Linked DNA regions of Homo sapiens. The protein of the gene in region 1 purifies or fractionates together with the protein of each later gene. This does not show direct contact. Each region holds a gene or a part of one and is shown on either strand. Other genes may lie near its edges.

Region 1 (7,351 bases):
TCGCCAGGTCAACCCTATCTAGATCAAGCCCCACGCAGTCCTCCAATCTCTCAGGAAGAAAGAAGAGAAAAAAATAGAAGCAAAGAGAAGGGGAAGAGGGAAGAGAGAAGGGGAGGGATTGGGTTTTAAATACTCATCTCCCCCTATAAGTCTCCATCTTTATTATCTCAGGTGCGTACTCTAAAATTCCTTTACTCTTAAGAACAAGAAACTTGGCCGGGCGTGGTGGCTCACGCCTGCAATCCTGGCACTTTGGGAGGCCGAGGTGGGCGGATCACCTGAGGTCAGGAGTTTGAGACCAGCCTGGCCAACACGGCGAAACCCCATCTCTACTAAAAATACAAAAATTAGCTGGGTGTGGTGGCAGGTGCCTGTAGTCCCAGCTACTCAGGAGACTGAGGCAGGAGAATCGCTTGAACCCGGGAGGTGGAGGTTGCAGTGAACCGAGATCATGCCACTGCACTCCAGCCTGGGCAACAAGAGTGAAACTGTCTCAAAAAAAAAAAAAAAAGAACAAGAAACTTTTCCTTGGGAATGCTAAGGGCTTTTTGTCAATTGCTTCAAAAGGAGGAATGTAGTAAAACACATATTATAGGACTACATATTTTATATATATATATTTTTATTATACTTTAAGTTCAAGGGTACATGTGCACAACATGCAGGTTTGTTACATATGTATACATGTGCCAGGGACTACATATTAACAATGATCCCTAGCATAATCAAGTCGCAAGATCTTAGATAAGGATGAGAGGAATTCACATATATTTAATGGGGTCAGCCACTTACAGAAGCCTCCTCTATGAAATAAGGTGCTTCAGGGGTCCCCAGACTGCCCACATGTATATAGTTGTACTCATGGCTAAATTTTTTACAGTGAATGGATATCAGCAATAGGAAAGGACCTCAAGTGTCACTAAAAGCATGTCAGGGCTGCCTGTAGAAACCCATGCACAGGCTTCCTTATGTTCTCTCCCTCCTGTGAGGATATACATCAAGCTTGCTCCTTGCTACAGCAGCAAAATATTCAATACATGTGTGCAGTTTGTGCCCAGGAAAGTCCATTAGAGAATCAGCACCCTAAGTTTTTAATTTATGCACCACCAGCCTAGCCATCAGATTCCCAGAAGGAAAGCAGGTATTCAACATAAATCATAGTTTGTAAAAAGGATCTAGGCATAGTGAACCATCTTTATTACTAATAGTTACAGGATTGAGGAAAGCATTCAAGTGCTTATTTCCCAGATGCCAGCCAAAGGCCAACTTTGTAAGCAGGCTCTTGTAAAAACAGCAGCCCCAGTGCTGCTCTATTCACTCTTCTTCACAGAAGTGATTAGTAATAGCTAGGCACAGTGGCTCATGCCTGTAATCCCGGCACTTTGGGAGACCAAGGCGGGTGGATTACTTGAAGTCAGGAGTTCAAGACCAGCCTGGCCAATAGGGTGAAACCCCGTCTCCACTAAATACTAAATACTAAACCCCGTCTCTACTAAATACTAAAAAATTTGCCCGGGGTGGTGGCACACGCCTGTAGTCCCAGCTACTCAGGAGGCTACAGTGGAAAAATAGCTTGAAACTGAGAGGCAGAGGTTGCAGTGAGCCGAGATCTCACCACTGCACTCCAGCCTGGGCAACAGAGCGAGACTCCCTCTCAAAAAAACCAAAAAAGTGATTGGTAAATGTTGCCAATGAGACTGAAGTACTTCCTAAAGTAAGTGGCATTAGGGAGCTGCCAACCTGTGGCTATGGCTGTGTTCCTTGTAAAATATAATCTTTTTCTTTTTTTTTTTTTTTTGAGACAGTTTTGCTCTTGTCACCCAGGCTGAAGTGCAATGGCGCAATCTTGGCTCACTGCAACCTCTGCCTCTCAGGTTCAAGCGATTCTCCTGCCTCAGCCTCCCAAGTAGCTGGGATTAGAGGCACGTGCCACCACACCTGGCTAATGTTGGGTTTTTAGCAGAGACAGGGTTTCACCATGTTGGCCAGGCTGGTCTCAAACTCCGACCTCAAGTGATCTGCCTGTCTCAGCCTCCCAAAGTGCTGGGATTACAGGCATGAGCCACCGTGCCCCATCATAAAATATAATCTTGACAACTGAAGCAGTTATTACTACAAAGCTAAGAATGTTGCAATTACAGAATGTTCTCGTGACTAGTGAACATGGCTGAAGAAGCAAATTGAGCTCAAGGTGCCCTTTTCTGAGTTACTGAGTGGAAAGGGTGCTACCACTGCTGGAGCTGCAGGACCAGCTTCTTAAAGATCATCCAATTCACTGCATTCTCTTCTCTCTCCTCCCAGAATCCAGCAATCAGTCATAAGATATATTTGTTGGCTCTCCTGCTAAGAAGCGAATGTGCTGACTAGCTAGCATGAGTTTGATTCAATAAAACAGCACTACACTCCATTAGTCAGACTATCTAATGATAACAGTGCTCATACATTAGGTACCCACGTGCCTTTTTGTTGCTCTTCACAATACTCCTATGAAGTACTACCTTGTATTTGACAGAAGATAGCAAAGTATCAGAGAAGGGAACTGACCTGTCTAGAGTCACACTAGTGAAAGCAAGTGATACAGGATTTAAATTCAGAGGTTCCATTTTCCAAACTCATGTCCTTTCCATTGCATTGTACTCCCTCTTTAGCTAGAAGTCAGGTTAGCACCAATCTGCCGGGACCTTCTCACCCCGAAGGTGCATGATAAAATCAAATATGAGAACCGACAAGGCCAAGGACCAGGTCACTCTGCCAAAAGTGCCTAAAACAGCCTTTCAGCTTCATCCATCAGCAGACAGCCACAAAACCACTCCCAACTGCAGCAGGCTGGTCTCCGGTCACCACTGTCTTATCTTGTCGGAAAACATCCTCTCTCCATGTGCCAAAAAGTTGAGTGGGAAAATAATTCCATCCTTTCAGAGCTAAACACTGTGCTGAGTCTCATCGCACACGGGTGGGCAAAGAAAGTTGACATTTACTGCTCACCCACTCTGTGCCTTGACCTGTGCAAGATGCTTTATGCTAGAACTCATTTAATTCTCAAGAACAACCTCATTTTACAGATAAGGATACAGAGGCTCTAAGAGTTAAATTTACCCAAGAGGACATGGTAAGTAAGTGCCAGTGCAGGGAACAAATTCAGGTCCCACTCTAAAATCTGTCTCTTTCCAGATCTCAAGGCACACCACTGAGTTGCCTTTCACCTTTCTCCCAAGATGAGGATTGCTCTGGCATGACTTCACCTTTCTCTTCTGAAGCAATTCCAAGTTCACTTCTCTGCCCACTGACAGTTCACTCTCCTTTCCCTGCCACTGTCCCTTCTGCAAACGCACAATCTTTTACCCAACCTAACGCCCCCAGCCTCGTAGAATAACACTGCGCAGTTGGTTTACAGTCACAAAGCACTTTCAAGACAGTGTTTCGTCTCCTGGTCACCACAGTCCGGTGAAGCCGGCAAAGCAGATAAAAGCATCCCCATTTTACAAGAAAGCCATCTTCCCAAGGTCGCGGAATAAAAAGCAGGTGAAATCGGAAGCAGAACCCCAGGTCTTGACCCCTGGTCCTCGGCTCATCCCACTGCTCCGCACAGCCGCCCACGATCCAGCCTCCACCTCCGCGATGTCACAAGATGCTCCCTGGGCCAGCAGCTCACATCCCCCACCCCCATCCCACAACCACCCACCTGCAGCGGCCCTGCAGGCCCCGCCGACCCTTCCCCCACGGTCCCTCTCTCTTCACCAGCCCCTCCCACTAGGGCCTCCTTCCCCCGCTAGATCCCTCCGCTCAGGCGCCCCCTCCCGCACAGGCTGCCGGCGAGCCCAGCCTCGGCCTCCCACAGACCCTCGTCCCGCCTCCACGCTTCGTCACCCCAGCCCCTCCTCCTGTCAGCCCGCGGCCCAGCCCGCCGACGTTACCTTCTCCAAGGATGCTGGTCTCTGCACCGCCAGGGAGCGGGCCAGTGACAGGACCGTGTTGAAATAGAAGCCCCGCGAGGCGCTGGAGCCGGAGCCGGAGCAGCCGCCGCCGCCTCCGCCTCCGCCTCCGCCTCCCCGGGCCGGGGCCGCCGCCATCACCTCACGAGCCGCGGCGCTGCCCGCCGGCTCCCCGCTCCTGGCCCGCGAGCGCCCGACCTCAGGGCGCAGGCGTAGGTGCATCCGGCTTTCCCGCCACGTGACCTCTCAGTTGCTGACACTAGATAGGGCGTGGCTGCGGGGCGGGCCCACCGCTGCAGGGGAGAGAGGGGATGGACAGTAGGCTGCGGTTGCGCGCGCCGGATGTGGGCCCCCCCCAGCCGACCTGCGCGATGGTCGGCTCCGAGGGCGGGGCCACCTGCGCGCGACGCGCGGAAGGAGTTCGCGCGACGACCGCGGGGTCGGCGGGCGGGGCGAGGCCCTGGACGGCGGCGGCAGTGGGGCTCCTCCTTCTGTTTCCCAGACCGAGAGCCGCGCCGGCACCATGTCAGCTTACCCTAAAAGCTACAATCCGTTCGACGACGACGGGGAGGACGAAGGCGCCCGGCCGGCCCCTTGGAGGGACGCCCGAGACCTCCCCGACGGGCCCGACGCGCCCGCGGACAGGCAGCAGTACTTGCGGCAGGAGGTCCTCCGCAGGGCTGAGGCCACGGCCGCCAGCACCAGCAGGTCCCTGGCCCTCATGTACGAGTCCGAGAAGGTTGGGGTCGCCTCTTCCGAGGTGAGCCTGGGGCAGGGCTGGTGTGGACTCGCCGGTCTCTGTGCTGTCAAACGGAGACGAGAAATGTTTTGCTCACAATCTTTTGAGAATTCTCAAGTTGCCTAGCATAGATTCTTGCACCTTAGTGACTCGATGGTGGTAACAATCTGTTAACTATGTAAAGGTATGTGCATCTGGAGTACTTGAAGAGGGCAGTTTACCCCAGAAATCTTCCTTAGCTATTAGTCTGCTTCGTTGATTTTTTTTTTCTTACGCCTAGCTCACGGGGAAACGCCAGATTATTTTCTGTCCAGGTGAGTAAAAATTCTGAACAGCAGGTCCTAGGTTTGGGAAATGGAGAGTCCGTTTCTTCGACATTATTTCCTGTGCAAAATCTGGCACAGGGTTTTGGCCATTCCTTCCGGAGTGAGCCAGAAAGAGAGGACTATGTGCCTGCGAGTGTCAGGTGATACCCTGAAGCATCAGGGCAGGTGGTCCACGAGTTCTTCCCGCATCATTGACATCTCCACCTAACCAACCAATAGAGGTATTGAAGTCCCTTCAGCCCAGACAGCTGCCTAGTTGACCAAAGCCTGGGTTTGATTGAGTCCAGGGTCTTACCTTTACTTCCCAAATCCTAGACAAATAGTGTGCGGGTTAAGAGTTTGTTGCTCCAACTCATCTTCATCAGTTCTTCCCATCCTTAGATTTCAGAGAGTAGTACCTTCAATAACAATTATTCTGGCCGAGCGCAGTGACTCACGCCTGTAATCCCAGCACTTTGGGAGGCCTAGGCGTCGGATCGCCTGAGCTCAGGAGTTCGAGACCCGCCTGGGCAACATGGTGAAACCCTGTCTCCACTAAAATTAAAAAAAAAAAAAAACTAGCCGGGTGTGGCGGTGCGCCTGTAGTCGCAGCTACTCAGGAGGCTGAGGTAGGAGAATCGCTTGTACCCGGGAGGCAGAGGTTGCAGTTAGCTGAGATCGTGCTGCTGCACTCCAGCATGGGCAACAGACCGAGATCCTGGAGGGTCTTTTTCTTTTTCTTTTTTTTTTTTTTTTGAGATGGAATCTCGCTCTGTCGCCCTTGCTTGGGTACAGTGGCATGATCTGGGCTCACTGCAACTTCCGCCTCCGGGATTCAGACGATTCTCCTGCCTCAGCCTCCCGAGTAGCTGGGACTACAGGTGCGCCGCCACACCCGGCTAATTTTTTTTGTATTTGTAGTGGAGACAGGGTTTTGCCCCGTTGGCCAGGCTGGTCTGGAACTCCTGACCTCAGGCAGTCCGCCCGCTTTGGCCTCCCAAAGGGCTGGGATTACAGGCGTGAGCCACCATACCGGTCGAGAATGATTCTTTATTGTACACCACAGTCTCTCTTCAGCCTGCTAATGAAACAGTTTTGTTTGGACAGAGAAAAAAAAAGGTTTAAAAAAATGTATAAGCCAGGCGCGGTTGTACTTCTGTAATCCCAACAATTTGTAAGGCTGAGGTAGGCAGATCATTTTAGCCCAGGAGTTTGAGACCAGCAGGGGTAACTGCGTCTCTACAAAATTTGAAAAATTAGCCAGGCATGGTGGCACACACATGTGAGTGCAGCTACTGAGGAGGCTGAGGCAGGAGGACCGCTTGAGCCCAGGATGTCAAGGTTGCAGTGAGCCATGTTCATACCACTGCACTCCAGCTTGGGCGACAGAGCAACACGCTATCATTTCCCCTTGCTGTTTTCTTGGGTTAATTCCCTTCCCCACCTCTCTCTGTTCATGTATCCCTCATTGATCCACCTCCCTGTGGTTTTTTTTTTTTTTTTTTGAGACAGATTCTCGCTCTGTCACCAGACTGGAGTGCAGTGGCACCAACTTGGCTCACTACAGCCTCCGCCTCCTGGGTTCAAGTGATTCTCCTGCCTCAGCCTCCTGAGTAGCTGGGACTAAGGCGTGCACTACCACACCCAGCTAATTTTGGTATTAATAGAGTTGGGGTTTTGCCATGTTGGCCAGGATGGTCTCGATCTCTTGACCTCGTGATCCACCACCTCGGCCTCCCAAAGTCCTGGGATTATAGGCGTGAGCCACTGCACCTAGCCCACCTCCCTGTGTTTAACTGTTGGTTTTTTATTTTTGTTTTGTTTGAGACAAAGTCTTACTCTGTCACCCAGGCTGGAGTGCGATGGTGTGATCTCGGCTCACTGCAACCTCCACCTCCCCAGTTCAAATGATTCTCCTGCCTCAACCTCCCAAGTAGCTGGGATTAGAGGCACCTGCTACAACACCTGGCTAATTTTTTTGTTTTTGTTTTTGTTTTTGTTTTTTTGGTGTTTTTTGTTTTTGAGACGGAGTCTTGCTCTGTCTCCCAGGCTAGAGTTCAGTGGCGCGATCTCAGCTCACTGCTACCTCTGCCTCCCAGGTCAAGCGATTCTCCTGCCTCAACCTCCTGAGTAGCTGGGCTTACAGGCACCCGCCGCCATGCCCAGCTAATTTTTGTATTTTTAGTAGAGACGGGGTTTCACTGTGTTGGTCCGGCTGGTCTTGAACTCCTGACCTCATGATCCACCTGCCTTGGCCTCCCAAAGTGTTGGGATTACAGGCGTGAGCGACCACACCTGGCCTCTGATTTTTGTATTTTTAGTAGAGACAGGTTTCGCCATGTTGGGCAGGCTGGTCTCAAACGCCTGACCTTAGG
Region 2 (7,792 bases), on another chromosome or scaffold:
AGAGAAACCCTGAGCTGAAAGAGTGATCGCCCACTGGGGCCAAATACGGCCACCTCCCCGCTCCAGCTCCTCAACTTGCCCTGTTTGGAGAGGGGAGAGGGTCTGGAGAAGTAAAACCCAGGAGACGAGTAGAGGGGGAATGTGTTTAATCCCAGCACGTCCTCTGCTGTCCTGCCCTGTGTCGTTGGGGGATGGCGAGTCTGCCAGGCGGCATCACTTTTTCTTGGGTTCCTTACAAGCCACCACGTATCTCTGAGCCACATTGAGGGGAGGGGAATAGCCATCTGCATAGGAGGTGTCTTCAAACAGGACCGAGTAGTCATCCTGGGGCTGTGGGGCAGGCAGACAGGAGGGGCTGCTCAGAGACCCCCAGGCCAGGACAGGCACCCCCTTCCCCCAGCCTAGACCACAGGAGGCTCTGGGCCGTGGACTCTCAGCCACTCCTAACATCCTTCACTCTGGGGTCAAGAAGTCTTGGCCCAGTCCCTGCTGCTACAGAGCTCTTTTCTCAGTGGCTGGAGACCCAAGGCAGGGAATAGGCAGGGAGGAGTAGGGGTGCTGACTCCCTTCCTAGTGGGGTCATAGCTGGAGGGTCTGCTGCCTTTCAAGGACTCTTTGTTGAGAGGACTGAGGGCAACCCAGAGGGTGGCAGGCAGGGATCCTGGCCTCAGGTGGCTTGTGTCCCATGTCACCAAGAGCACAAGGCGGTAGGAGCCCAGGGCTCAGGGCAGGAGCTTCCCATCTCGGAGCTGGTTCTCCTGGGGCTGGAAGCCACTGACTCGGGGCTTGCCAAGGCTGCCAGGGCTGGCAAAGGGATGGTGGCCTTTGGGGCTGGAGTGGAAGAGGGAGGGCAGCTGGTGGGTCCTGTCAGCTTGGAGCCTGTGAGATGAGGACAAAGGGAAGGAGTGGGGAGAGGACCCCTCGTCTGTCTGATCAGCCTGTTCCTGACATCACCCATGGCCTCTCCCCTGGAGGCTGCTTTACCCGCTGTGGGGGCGCATGGATCAGGGCGCGGTAGAAGCAGGTAGTCTGGGGATACAGGGCCAGCACGAGCTGCTCCTTCTGGAACAAGGCCTCAGGGTCCGTCTCCGGGTTGGCCTTCCACTGGGGCAGCGGGATGACACGGCGCCGGCTCAGGGTGTGTCTCCTGGGGGAAGAGGGGCTTATATCAACCTGTGGCCGGGTGGGGATGCTCCTTCTCAGCTGTTAGGCTGCCCCCAGGCTCCATGCCCTGCCCTGGCCTGGACACTCACTCTTTGCCTTCTTCATCGATGTCATCTACCTCATACCTGCAGACAAAAGGAGGAAAAGGCTGGATGCAGCCAGGGGCGCAGTACCTGTTGGGGAGTGAGGATGGGGGAGGACCTGGTGCTCCCTGCACAACCAGCCTCTGGGGAGCACCCTCTGCAGAGCTTTTCTCCCGTAGCCCAGGCAAGTTCGGTGACCAGAGAGCAGCCCCAGGGTTGGTGTCACTCACTTGTTGGTGGCATGGCTGTAACTGACCACCTCGGCCAGGATCCACTGCTCGTCCCCATCCACGGCCTTCACCCGGGCAGCCACCTTGTCTCCAGGTCTGGCCACGTAGTCTCCTGAGGCAGGGATGGCCCCACAGAGGGGTGGGGGCCTGTGAGTGGAACAAAGGGTCAGTCCCAGCCCCTGGGCACCAGCCCCTCCCTCGCAGCTGCTGCCCTCACTTGTCACCAGGCTTCCCGATCCACAGGGGCAGGGTCATGGCCGACTGCTGCAGCAGGGTCATCAGCACCCCTCTGCGCATGGTCTTCCGGGGTGGCTCCGAGTCATTGTAGAGACCGGCAATCTTGGCCGCTGTGGGAAGGAAGGGAGGCCTGAGGCCCCAGGGATAGGTGCCGGCCTTGACCCCCGAGCATGCTGCACTGAGCTGTTGAAGGAGCACCTGGGAGCCCCCAGTTCCCGAGTGAGCCCGAGGGCCCAGCAGGACTGTGACCCCATCGGCCATGTGTCAGCACCTATAGGGGCTGCTGGGTTTAACTACAGTTGGGTGAGATGGCAGCACAGCGGGGATCCAGGGGGAGGAACCAGAAGAAAGAAAGCGGGTTCCAAGGTGCTGTTCAGGCTGTGTTTGCTGATCTGAATGCTGGTTACAGAAGTGTGTTCAGTTAGTGACTATTTCATTGAACTCTGCACTTATGTGTACTTTTCTTCTATTAATATACATTGTAATTCAACAGAAAGTTAAAAAAACCAAAAAAAAAATTAAATGTGCACCTTCAACCTCCTCAGGCACAGCTGGACACCCCACTTGACTTCACACAGAACCAGCATGGCTGTGTGGGGACACTGACATGCCAAGATTCTGCCCACCATGGGATTGTTGGGAGGGCAGACAGGTAGGAGAGCCTAATGCAGGCTGAGGGGGTCTGGAAGGCTGGCTTTACGACACACAGCGTGTGGCTCTGCAGAAACCAGCCAGGGCAACAGATGGGCATGGGCCATGGCAGAGGAGGGGGCGACTGGCCCAGGCCCCAGAAGGGGCAGGAGATGAGGGGCCAGGGCGGGATGATCTCTGGCTGCTGAGGGAGAACTGGGAAACCCCTGCCTCTGGGCACTGGGAATGACCTCCTGTCCCTTCTCAGTGGTAGAGCCAGTCTGCCAGAGCCTCCATGGGAGGATGCCAGCAGGTGGTGGCCACAGGCCCCCACAGGAGGGTGACTGCTGCCCGCAGGGCCTCTCCTCTTGTCCTAGCAAAGGACCTCCCAGCATGTTCTCTCCCACTCACCAATCCGCCTCTCTTCCAACAGAGACTTGATTTCCGCGATCTTGTCCAGAGCTTTCCGAAGGATGCTGAGGGCGGGGAGAAGGGAGAAAGAGGGTTTGGTTAACGTACATAGCATAGACTTCTCTTCCATTTTTTCTGTTTTGGGTCAAGCTACATTGCCCAGGCTGGTCCCGGACTCCAGAGGTTCTCACAGTAGCCTCCTGCGCAGGTGGAATGACAGGTGTGTGCAGGTTCCTGTTCTGGTCAAGGTGGGCTGGGTTATTCAGACCAACCTCATGGTGAAACTAGAAATCTGCCCGGGTGTGGTGGTTCACGCCTGTAATCCCAGCACTTTGGGAGGCCGAGGAGTGTGGATCACCTGAGGTCAGGAGTTCAAGACCAGCCTGACCAATATGGTGAAACCCCGTCTGTATTAAAAATACAAAACTTAGCCAGGTGTGGTGGCGAGCGTCTTTAACTGTAATCCCACCTACTTGGGAGGCTGAGGCAAGAGAATCGCTTGAACCTGGGAGGCAGAGGTTGCAGTGAACCGAGATCGCGTCATTGCACTCCAACCTGGGCAAAAAGAACGAAACTCCATTTCAAAAAAAAAAAGAAAACTGGAAATCTTCAGTATGTGTCTTTTAGTCTTAAGAACATAAAAAACAAGGTGGTAGAAAGCAGCATGCCAAAAACTAAGAGAACACAGGATCCCAGAGAGGAAAGGACACAGGCAAACTGCCTTCGGCAAACCCTGCAGAAAGGCTGCAGGAACCTCCTGAAATGAGGAGAGGGGGCCTCAGGTCTGCCCGAGGGTCACACAAAAGGAGGGGAGACTCTGGGGAGAGGTGCTGGCCCAGAGCAGAACTGGGTGGAAGGACCTCATCCTTTCTGAAAGGCTGAACCCAAAGACAGACCCCTGCATGGCCTTGAAGCCCCAGGAAGCCTCTGTGAAGTTAGTTTATGGGGATTCCAGGGTGGCAGGAACCCAAAGAACCCAGCAGAAGCAAACACAGAACTTGGCTGGAGTGAGGCTCCTTCATCCTAAAGCTCAGGGAATCTTCCCAAAGAGTATTTCCACAGCAGGGATGGGTGTGGTGGCTCACGCCTGTAATCTCAGCACTTTAGGAGGCTGAGGCAGGAGGATCACTTGAGGTCAGGAGATCGACACCAGCCTGGCCAACATAGAGAAACTCCTTCTCTACTAAAAATACAAAAATTAGCCCGGCGTGGTGGCGGGCGTCTATAATCCCAGCTACTTGGGAGGCTGAGGCAAGAGAATCGCTTGAACCTTGGGGGCAGAGCTTGCAGTGAGCCGAGATTGTGTCACTGCACTCCAGCCTGGGTGACAGAGCGAAACTCCATTTCAAAAAAAATACGTATTTCCACAGTAGTCAGCAGCACAAACTCCACTTTGGGTCATTTTATTTTCCTCTGATACCATGGCAAACCCCAGTCCATTCCTCTGGCAAGCCTTTCTGAAATGACCCGGAGTTCTAAAGACCTTTGTGCGGCAGGAAGGAGATGCACAGGAACTGGGTGTGATGCAGCATCTCGGGAGGTGTCCGGGGGTGCCCCAGGGCATGTGACTCATGGACCTCACCAGGCCAGGGCCAGAAGATGGAGGTAGGCCAAGGGCAGCCAAACCAACGCAGGGACAAGGAACAGCTTGCCTGCTGCGTACAATGCAGGGATGGCCCAGCCAGTGCCACCTCAGGCTGTGAGCACCGGGACCCCAGAAAGCAGAGAAGGAGAAAGAGCCACGGGGCCAAAGGGAACTCTGAGAGTCTCATCACTGTTGCCAGGCCTGTGTGGAGGATACAGTTTTATACAGCCTGTCCTAAACTGTCTTCTGTGACATGTTACTGAAGTGGCTTTCAAACCTTGGTGGGCATCAGAATCTCCTGGGGGAAGTTTAAAAAATCTCAATTGTTTCACGCACAAATCATAAATGGATGCTAAAACTAGTGTGTTTGATATGAACAGGATAGTTACAGTCTCAAAAGTATCTCCCAAGACACTTATTAATTATGCAATGGAGGCCAGGTGCAGAGGCTCACACCTGTAATCCCAGCACTTTGGGAGGCCAAGGTGGGTGGATCGCTTGAGCTGAGGAGTTCAAGACCAGCCTGGGCAACATGGCAAAACCCCTCTCTACAAAAAATACAAAAATTAGGTGGAGTGGTGGCAGGTGCCTATTGTCCCAGCTACTCAGGAGGCTGAGGCAGGAGGATCACTTGAGGCCAGGAGTTTGAGGCTGAAGTGAGCCATGATTACGCCACTCCACTCCAGCCTGGATGACAGACTGAGACCCTGTCTTAATCGATCAATCACACAATGGAAAATAGCAGTAATCTGATACAAGAGAAACGTGGAAAATACCACTTTAACCAATGGCACAGACAGCATCCTGTGCCGTCTAATATGACCCACCAGAGACACCTCTTCTGTGCCAAAAGTGTAAAGCATGAATCCTACTAGTGAGGAAATGTCAGATAGTTAATACCAATGTTGGAGCTCCACCCCAAATAAACAGAGCCTCTGGGCACAGTCAGACTTCAGAACCAGTGTGTTCTCAAAGTAGAGGAATGTAATGTTCAAGTTCCTGAATCTCCTGCAGAGATTCAAGGAAACAGTGTTTCCAGATCATTTTTTTATTTTAGTTTTTTTTTTTTTTTTGAGGCAGAGCCTTGCTCTGTTGCCCAGGCTGGAGTGCAGTGGCACGATCTTAGCTCACTGCAACCTCCGCCTCCTGCCTCAGCCTCCCAAGTAGCGTGCGCCACCACACCTGGCTAATTTTTGTATTTTTAGTAGATATAGGGTTTCGCTATGCTAGCCAGGCTGGTCTCAAACCCCCAACCTCAGGTGATCCACCCACCTTGCGATTGCAGGCATGAGCCACTGTGCCTGCCCGGCCTTAAGATTATTTTAAAAGCAGGAGTTTTCTGGAAGTGAAACTTCTCCATCTCAGAACCATAAAACCTTCAGGTCATCTGAGTATGACTTCCCAGCCAAGCTTACAGACACATGCCACCACGCTCAGCTAATTAAAAACTTTTTGTAGAGACAAAGTCTCACTTTGTTGCCCAGGCTGGTCTCAAACACCTGCGTTCAAGTGATCCTCTAACCTCGGCCTCCCAATCACCTCTGTAATGTTGTGATTACAGATCTGAGCTACCCAGCCCCTGATATCCCTATTTTAATGACTCTGCCAAGGTCATAGAGCCAGTAAACGGCAGTGTTGACTCACGCCTTGCCACCTTCTGTAAAGGCATTAGCAGCAGAGGTAACTGGAAGAGTGGGCCTGGCAGTGGGCCAGGGAATGCGGGACCCAAGCGAGAGGCTGGGAGTAGCAATCAGCTTATCCATGGGAGGAAGGCAGGCTGGGGACTTGGTCCAAATGGACCTGCAGCCCAGCCCCCAGGAAAGGAGGGAGCGGCGATGAAGTGGGTGCACGGTACTCACTTGCACTCAGCCTCTGCATCGGCCTTGGCGGTTGTGTAGAGGCCACGCAGCTTTGTCCGGTAATAGGGAGAAACTGCAGAGGAAACACAGGGATAAGGAGGCAGGGCCAGGGCAGGCACAGTAGCATGGCACTGCTTCCATGCACCGGAATCACACTCGTGGAGGCACAGAGAGGCCGTAGCTGCAGTCAGAGCTCTGCTGGCTCAGGAGTGCTCCTGAGGCGGATGCCCCCAGGCTCCATGAGTCCGCATTTCCATATGGTACAAATGCCATCCCTACATCTGCGAGAGTACTGTCTTACCTTTTCTCCATCATGACACTCACAGAAAATATTTGTCAGGACCCAGGAAAACACAATTCTCAGAGTTACCCAGAGTAAGAAAGCCCCAGCCCCAGGATCTCACCACCTGAGGGCCTCAGGGCAGATGCAGGGGCCGCCTGGGAAGGAAGCTCCTTTCTAGAAAACACCAGCTAACTGGGGCGCTTGTGTGCTCTAAGGGCAAGCTTCCCTAGATACAGCCTCATTTCACTGCCTTTCGAATCCTCAGAGTAGAGGGATTTTAGTTCTTCAGGTCACCCAGATTAACGGAAAGCTGTCCCTCCTGCTGCATTTTGGAATATGCAGATACATGCAAATCTATTTTGAATACAATGACCACCTCGGTCACAGTCTTGGCCATACTCACCCTAGCCCCATCTCATCCCCTTTCTCTCCTGAGCCCAGCTACTCACTCTTGTTCTCTGTCTGCATCCGCTCATGGGTCTTCTGGATGTTCACTAAGTTGTGTTCGCTCCGCGAACGCTCTTCCTGTAAGGAAAAGAGCAGCAGGACATGACGGTGGCCCTTTGTGCTGCTGTGGTACCCTGCCAGCCAGGCCAGAGTCCCCATCCCCAAAATACGGCCCTCATTTTCTTTTTTTTTTTTTTTTTTTGAGATGGAGTCTCACTCTGTCGCCCAGGCTGGAGTGTAGTGGCACGATCTCGGCTCACTGCAAGCTCCGCCTCCCGGGTTCACGCCTTTCTCCTGCCTCAGCCTCCCGAGTAGCTGGGACTACAGGCGCCCGCCACCACGCCTGGTTAATTTTTTGTAGTTTTAGAAGAGACGGAGTTTCACCGTCTTAGCCAGGATGGTCTCGATCTCCTGACCTCGTGATCCGCCTGCCTCGGCCTCCCAAAGTGCTGGGATTACAGGCGTAAGCCAATGCGCCCGGCCTAATTTTTTGTATTTTTAGTAGAGACAGGGTTTCGCCATCTTGGCCAGGCTGGTCTTGAACTCCTGACCTCGTGATCCACCTGCCTCGGTTTCCCAAAGTGCTGGAATTACAGGCAAGGGCGCCCGGCTATGGCCCTCATTTTCTAAATCCAAATTCAGGAGTTCAAGATGATTTTCTCCTTTGACTAATGCAAAAGCATTATAAAAGGCCTTAAAGGGCCTGGTGCAGTGGCTTAAGCCTGTAATCCCAGCACTTTGGAAGGCCAAAGTGGGCAGATCACTTGAGATCAGGAGTTCAAGACCAGCCTGGCCAACATGATGAAACCCCACCTCTACTAAAAATACAAAAATTAGCCGGGCATTGTAGCATGTGCGTATAG
Region 3 (7,792 bases), on another chromosome or scaffold:
GTCGAGGAAGAGCAAGGAGAAGGAGCACATCACGAGGAAGAAGAGGATCCACACGCGGAAGCCAGCGTTGTTTTTAATGGCCTGGGCAGGGACGGGAGCACAGGTGTTTTTATCACACAGGATTTTGGTTTGAGCAGCCCTGAAATGCCCCCCTCTTCCCACGTGCTCTCCTGATCCTGGCTGTAACTATGGGTGTCGTTCCATCTGTGCTTACCTTGAATAGATGGCTTTTGAGATCCACCAGAAGACAAATGGGTTATATTTCCCTCTGTTTGGCCATCATTTGGGTCCTGCACAATTCTCCCTCAACACAACTCTCGGAATCACTCCCTTCTGTCCCAGGGTTAAGGGCCCCGAGCAGAGTGTGACCGCAAGCTTTGTGTTTCCCAGTAACATGATGTCCGTGGTGACCCAACCCTGAGGACTGAGCTTGGGAAACAGTCCCCTCAACAGGATGGCTGTAGTGTCCTCTGTAAGCAGGGGCCAGGCTCTGACCCCTCGGTGGGGGCCAACGAGCTACCCATGTACATCCCTGGACATGAAGAGCTGGCCTGACCCTGCCAGGAGTACCCCCACCCACCCTGGATTGCTCCTTTGGAGGCTGGTGAGCCACTGCCTCTCGAAAGCAGCTGGAGGTGGGCGACAGGTGGTGGGTCTCATGAACACACGCAGCTCCGCGGTCACACAATTTTGTGATCAGCCCCGTGAGCTCTGCCCAGCAAGGCTCCTGGGCAGCTGTGCCGGCGAGACTAACACCCGCTGCTGGGACTCAGTGCTGCGCCACGTCGCACCTGGGGAACCTAAACAGTGCCTACCTCTCTTATGTCTTCGTTGCCTTCCTTGATATTTTCAGTTGCCCCCACAACTAACTGGTGAATGCTGTCAATCTCAGCTTCCTGTGGAAGAAAAGATAAATACAAGTTGAGTATCCTTTATCCAAAAACCTGAAACCCAAAATGCTCCAACGAGCATTTCCTTTGAGTGTCATGTCAGCGCTCAGAAAGTTTCAGATTTTGGAGCACTTAGGACTTCACATTTTGAAGTTTAGGGATGCTTGACATATACAGCCACTTCCTCCTCCCTGAAGCGTATATCATGACAAGAACAGTAGCCGTCACCAAGGGCTAACGGCTTTACTTGCATAGCCACAAATCCTCACAGCACCCCAAGAAGTAGGTATTACCTCTATTTTATGAAACGGAAACTCACGGCTCAGAGAAGTTTACTAACTTGCCCAAAGTCACATCACACAGCAACCAAGTGGCAGGACTGAGACTTTTTTTTTTTTTGAGACAGGGCTTAAACGATCCTCCCACTTCAGCCTCCCAAGTAGCTGGGAGTATAGGCATGTGCCACCACGCCTGGCTAAATTTTTAAAATTTTTTGTAGAGATGGGGGGTCTCCCTATGTTGCCCAGGCTGGTCTTGAACTCTTGAGCTCACACCATGCTCCCGCCTCGGCCTCCCAGAGTGCTGGGATTACAGGCATGAGCCACCGCGCAGGGCTGAGACCCCATCTTGTTGCAGTGCTCCTTCCGCCACACTTACCATCCCTCCTGCGCCACTCGCCGGTGACGGACAAAAACCTAAGAGCTATTGTTTGTGGAGCAGCCACCATATGCCAGGGGCTTCCCTTCTAGTCTCTCATTTCTTTCTGAAGTCCACAGAAGTAAGCTTTAAAATGTATGTGCTTCGAAATACATATGCTAGCTTCAAAAATAGTGCTTTGTGTTTTACTATCATCATATCTCTTAAAAAACAGGCTAAAATTTAAAAATCAAAATAGGATGCAGGATGCTTACAGAAAACGTTTACTCCAAACGAAGCCTTGAAAAGCTTGAGAAGCGTGGGATAACACAGGGGGCGTCTGGCCCCACAGGAGCAGAGACGGTGCTAGACGTCCTTACAAGCAGGAGTGCCTGCTTCTCTCCTCCTTTCGGTGGTGGTGAAGCTGCTTCCTAACAGGGTCAGGGCAGAATGAATGCTAGCGTGGGTTTTTAGAGAAACCTGACTGACACATTGTAGGGAGGAAGGCAGCATGTGGCCTCTGATTCCCAGCAATGAATATTACTGGGATGGCTTTGCCTCATCATCACCCCTTTTTAGAGAGTCTCAAAGTGTGAACTAAGTGACCACTGCCAAGGTTCCAATGAGAGAATCAATATGAACTACAATGCAACACTGATGGAAAAAACAAGAAAGACACATTGTTCCTCAGGACTTAGGAACTCCCAGTGGGCCGGGCGCAGTGGCTCTCGTCTGTAATCCCAGCACTTTGGGAGGCCAAGGCAGGTGGATCACCTGAAGTCAGGAGTTCGGGACCAGCCTGGCCAAGATGGTGAAACCCCGTCTTTACTAAAAATACCAAAATTAGCCAGGCGTGGTGGCATGCCTGTAATCCCAGCTACTCAAGAGGCTGACTGAGGCAGGAGAATCGCTTGAACCTGGGAGGATGAGGTTGCAGTGAGCCAAGATAGCAACATTGCACTCCAGCCTGGGCGACACAGCAAGACTCTGTCTCCAAAAAAAAAAAAAAGAAAAAGAAAAAAAAAGAAAAGAAAAAGAAACTCCCGGTGAGCCAAGGCAAGGCTCTGCCTATGCTCTGCACGCCCCTCCCAGGCCCCCTGGAGCCGCTGGGAGGTTTGAAGCAGGGTAGTGTTATTAAAAAGGGCGACTCCTATGAACCCGAACTTGCAAACCACTGTTAGACTTAATGTACCTCATTTACAATGATTTCACTCTGGCTGTGTGGTTTATGGAAAGTCATTTTGTGAGTGAAGTATCTTAAGTCAAGTAGTCCAGTTTAAAATACTGGAGAAAATTTTGTCTTTCAAACGTTCCCATAGTCTTTGGATGCTAAAAATAAAAGGGCAAATTTATCAGGTCTTGAAAAGTTTTGCCAGTTATTGGCTGGAAGAATTTCAGAAAATTCACTTGAAAAGAACAATCCTATTTCCCACGCAGACACCATCCCTGAGGTGGCATGGACCGCGCGTTGTGAGAGGCCTGGGTCTGAGCTCCTGTAACCTACTGACTGAAAAGCAACTGCCCGTCAGCATCGTGCTGGATGCTTCTGCAGTTATCTCTCAAACAGAGAATAACCCTGCAGGAGTCCCTCCCTCCTATAGATGGGAAACTGTAGCTTGTGGGGGCTACCTAGCTTACCCAGCACATCCAGAACCCTGACTGCCAGGCCTGGACTCTCCTCCCACGTGCCACCGCATGTGCTACCACATGGGGTGGTCAGTGGGTCCCCTGTGGGGAGCTCCTCCTCCATCACACGTGTGCAGAGGCAGCTCTGGGTAGTGAGAGCTTTTCCCTGAGGAGCTCTGCGCACACACACCTGCTAGCAACACATGGCTCTGCTCCTGGCTGTGTAGAGCAGCAGCCTTTGGGAAAAATGTCTCGTGCTCTCAAGTACATTCCCCTTTGAGTGAAAACATACAGCTCCTTTGTTTTTGTTTTTTTACCTGTTGCAAAACCTTTTCCGTGAATATCTCTTGGAGTCTGGAAATCTCAACCACTCTCCCTTCGATTTGCCTTCATAAAAAGAACAGATTACATATTAACTATTAGCACTTGGTAATCTAACAGGACTGTTACACACTTCTAAAGAAATCCTATCTTCTACGTGAAGGTGGGAGAGACAGGGGGCACACTGTGTCGGCTGGGGGAAGAGGAGATGGGAGAGGAAGGCGAACTCTCCTTACTGGGTCACCTTCCCTGTCTTCTGGCATAGCCTAGCACACTGGTCTTTTTGGAAGTCCACTCTACCATGCCAACTGACCCTCAGTCCCAAGAGGTGGGTGTGTGCAGTGCCCTTTGCATTCTGTGTCACTGCTCGGGGAATGGGGAGGGCCTGGTTGTGCCCCAGTTACAGAAAGCAGTCTCCAGTAAGTTCTCTGCCTAGCCTCATCACCATGGTAACACATGGTGGGGATTCAGAAGGTCAGAATATGCTGATGATCCAGCTTTGTTAATGCTCAGCAGGTTAAAGAAAAAAGTGTATTTACCTTCAAACCAACTCCCTGTTCCAAGAAAAAAGCTCCTCTGATTCATTTAGAAAATGCCATGTCTTGGTTTGGCAACGGAGTGTTCTGTCGGATCTGAAACACTTGGGCTAGCCATCTTCCTGGTGTCAGGGGCAGCATGGGCTACCCTGGGGGGCGGGTGGGGGCACATCTATTTAGAAACAGAAGCTGGCCCAAGCTGAAGTCAACTGCTGTTCCAGCACAAAGCAGCGACAGGAAGTGACAGGAGGCAAAAAGTGGTGGGAGCTGAGCTCCTGGCCAGGTGGAAGCAGTGATGAATCCCAACAGTATCACAGTGGCAGGGGGCAGGGGAGGAGATGTGGGAAGAAAAGCCAGTGAGTATCTGGGCATGGGGGAGTAGCGGGGTGGGGGCGGTAGTGGGGCAGACAGTGAAAGCTAGGCTGTCAGAGGAGGACTAGGAGGTCCATCTCTGAGGGCAGAAGGCGAAGAGCCCCTTGGAGGCTGACACCTACACTGAGAAAGTCCTCAGGCTGTGTGAGTGCAGCATCAGGATTGATTTTATTTGGGGGACATGTCCACAATACAACAGGCTCTGCAAAGTCCTGGGCCTTACTTTCAGCATGCTCCAAGCCTTCCCACAGAAACTAGAGGCTAACGGGTGCATGTGTGAGTGACCAAGGCCTTGCCTTCTGCATTCCTGACTCCCTGGTGGGTACAGGAGCAGGCAGACCCCAGTGGAACCATTTGCAGAAGAGGGCTTCCCTTGGTTAGCTGCCCTTCATAAGGGCCCCATTTCATTTCAGAGTCGCTGCGTGGAAACAGCCCGAATGGTGGTGGAAATTATACGCAGGTAATCTGTAGTCACTCCTGTATCTCTCGGGGTGGGAAGCACCTGGGCCCCCCGCAGCAGTGGCAGCAGGCAGGAGGTAACCCACAGGCCCACAAGCTGAGGGAGTTGTGGATTCAGGCCACATGCCCACCCCAGCCCAGTCAAAATGGCTGAGGGGGGCTGCACCAGCCCAAGGGCCCCATGGGGATGCCTGGGCACCAAGGTAAATAAAGTTCCTAGTTCCTGGAAAAGTTGTAAAGCAGGCTATCAGCTCACAGAGGAGCTACAAACATACCTCACTTCATCAAACAAGCTGTTCATTTCACCAATTAGTCGCTGATTTTCCTGTTCAAACTGTGAGGAAACAGACACACTCAGGATGACATCATACTGAACTTAGGCAAGAGTCTAGCAAGAAAGCGGACCTACGCTCCAGGAATCACTGCCGAAGCCCCCATTTCCAGCTGCGGCAACGTGGCAGCCGGTGCTGGACGACCGTTAGCATTAGTGTGAACAACGTCCCTGCTTTCAGGAGAAAGTTTTAAAAAACAGCTGTGCTGCCTGGTAATTGACTTCTCCATCTCAACCACTGCACTCCAGGGGTACAAGCTGACTGCTATGGCTGTAGCTGTATCTACCTACCCGCTCTCCCCTGGGATCCCACGGCCTGCTTCCTGACTCTAGTACCATTATTAAGAAAATTCTTTTGTTGTTGTTTTCTCTCATGAACTATACTGAAGGACTATACATATTTTTTAATATGGAGAAGGATCTGGTGTGGGGAGGGTCTGGAGAGGAAGGGGAGGTGGGCAGCTTGGCCGAGCTGCCTCTGGGCCCCTCTGACTTCAGAGCCTGGCCACTCCACTGCTCAACAGGGACAGAGGCCCAGAGCCAGAGGAGCGTGTTTCCCAGTGCTCAGGCTGGGTGAGGACGGGTGCCCTGACACCAGGGATACATGGGAGCTTCTTGGAGCTGAGTGAGCTTGGCACAGACAGTTGCTCTCCCAGCCATTCTTGCCAGTTTGATATGGGCCAAAGAAAAGGATGGAAGCTCCTGAAACTCAGCACAGAGAATGGACAGGAACAGCTCCTTGCCCTCACTGCAGGCCCCCACAGCCCTGTCCTCGTGTGTCCACTCAACTCCCGCAATGTGCAGGGAGTCAGGGGCGTCCTGCATTTCCTCCCCGATGCATCCCGCAGGCCCCACTTCTCCAGGACACCTACCCTGGCCCCTAAGCTCAAACTTATTTCTCATATTCCTATCCTTGGCCTACCATTTTCTGAAAATATCTTAGGATAGTAGCGCCCAACGGTCCCTTTCTGCCTTGTAATAAACTGTGCCCATCCCAAACTTCCCGTGTCACCCTGAGCTTCCTGAGGGCGGGAACTGGGTGGAACATAACTTTGCAAAGGCATTCCAGTTGTTCTTTCTTTCTTATAGATTAAAGCTGCCATCAAATCCACAAATATTTTCTGAGGCATTCTGTAAGCAGGAGTGGGAGGGATACATACAAGCAAGCCTCTGGAGGCTCCGAATCGATGGAAGATCTGGCTTATCACTTGCTTAGTAAACCAAAAATACAAGGGAAACAATGGTTATGGGAGGCAGCTGACCACCACGGGCTATGCTGGCACTTCATTCAACAGCCTGACCTTGTTGCCATTGTCCTAGGGCGGAAATGAGTTGCAGGGTCTCCCCAGCAGCCTCCTTCCCACCCAGGACCCCTCCCCTCCAAGTACCCCAGCTGTGCTCTATGCAGGCGCTCTTCACACACACGCCCCTTCCTAAGTCCACCAGTTTCGCCCCCGCACATGCACTTGCTGTATTCAGCCCTTCCCCTACCGTCCACATTCCACCCTCACCGTTTCTCACTTGCCTCCAACCTGTTATCCAATCCTTGGTCAAAGTGATCTCAAGTGCTGGTCATGCCAGAATGCCTCATGGTGGCCTTGCCCGCTGACCCTACAGATCAGGTCTAGGGCACACTGTTATCCATGCCCTGGCCACGTGACATCTCCCATCTCAGCTCTGCTCTGACAGGCTAGTTTCCTGCCTGGCTGCAGAACTCCACGTGGTCCCTCAAAACCCCAGGCATCTTCCTAGCGATCTGATACCTCAGGGCAGACTGAATCACCTTCTCTTACTTTCTCACTCTTGTTACCAAGTTCCCCTGTACTTGGCTCTTCAAGGACATTTCTCACACTTGTTCAGGGGGCTTGTCTTCTCTCTGTGGAAGGCAGCTGTCCTCCTTTGGACACTGAGCCCAGCCCAGGGCCTCACACATGACAGAACACCAGTTCTCGGCCCCGGCTACTCAAAACACAAGGAGGCATCTGCTGCACTCCAGACCCACCGGGCCAGAAAACGGGGAAGGGGCAAAGCTCTGGGAAGGGCGGAAGTGCCAGGAAAGCTCCCTGCAGGACCAACTCATCCACAGCAGGGGGCCGTGCTGGCTGCTGACACAGAATTGCTTATGGCCCCTTTAATTAGGCAAGACAAAGGCTATTTAAGAGAGTAAAACTTTCACTTTTGAGTTTGAAAGTATCCGCTCTGTTAACTTCAACAGTTACTTAAGAGGACAGTATTTAAGGAAAACATGTAATTACTAAAACATGCAGGCGCCAATTCACTTTGGCTAATTCAGGTACTACTCAGCTTTCCCTGGGTGGCGGCATTTTCTTGAATTTTTCTAATGACAAAATATGGCCCTGGCCCTGACCTTTTAAATCCACAGTCCCTTTTATGCTTTGAAACTGTTCCTAAACAAAATTAACTAGTGGTTTGGGGTGATTCATTCCTGGACTGTTCCTTGGGAACAAAGCTTTTCTTGTTTCCTCCCCAATTTGAGGGCCTGTGGTATAAGGCACTTAGGTGCGGCACCTCCTCTTAGGCCTCTTCGTAATTGTTAACTTCTGATAGCTCCATGTCCGCCCTCCACTGCACTCAGGAGTGGGATCAGATGCTGGCTCTAA

What was found.
Region 2: the proteins of SNAP29 (region 1) and SGF29 purify together in Homo sapiens (affinity purification with mass spectrometry; 4 studies listed by BioGRID and IntAct, with this or other methods). This does not show direct contact.
Region 3: the proteins of SNAP29 (region 1) and STX18 purify together in Homo sapiens (affinity purification with mass spectrometry; 5 studies listed by BioGRID and IntAct, with this or other methods). This does not show direct contact.

Annotation. Positions count from the first base shown.
Region 1 is NC_000022.11:20,854,656-20,862,006, forward strand, and holds the start of SNAP29 (synaptosomal-associated protein 29), read left to right. Parts: upstream 1-4,351; 5' UTR 4,352-4,455; coding exon 4,456-4,692; intron 4,693-7,351. Other genes in the region: PI4KA (phosphatidylinositol 4-kinase alpha), read right to left, coding at 3,915-4,070. UniProt on the Homo sapiens protein: SNAREs, soluble N-ethylmaleimide-sensitive factor-attachment protein receptors, are essential proteins for fusion of cellular membranes.
Region 2 is NC_000016.10:28,584,128-28,591,919, reverse strand, and holds the end of SGF29 (SAGA-associated factor 29), read right to left. Parts: intron 7,008-7,792; coding exon 6,932-7,007; intron 6,273-6,931; coding exon 6,200-6,272; intron 2,821-6,199; coding exon 2,756-2,820; intron 1,825-2,755; coding exon 1,695-1,824; intron 1,625-1,694; coding exon 1,478-1,624; intron 1,290-1,477; coding exon 1,254-1,289; exon of another isoform or gene 1,249-1,253; intron 1,148-1,248; coding exon 985-1,147; intron 880-984; coding exon of another isoform or gene 868-879; exon of another isoform or gene 331-867; coding exon 214-330; 3' UTR 130-213; downstream 1-129. UniProt on the Homo sapiens protein: Chromatin reader component of some histone acetyltransferase (HAT) SAGA-type complexes like the TFTC-HAT, ATAC or STAGA complexes.
Region 3 is NC_000004.12:4,420,049-4,427,840, forward strand, and holds part of STX18 (syntaxin-18), read right to left. Parts: intron 5,175-7,792; coding exon 5,116-5,174; intron 3,540-5,115; coding exon 3,470-3,539; intron 897-3,469; coding exon 816-896; intron 82-815; coding exon 1-81. UniProt on the Homo sapiens protein: Syntaxin that may be involved in targeting and fusion of Golgi-derived retrograde transport vesicles with the ER.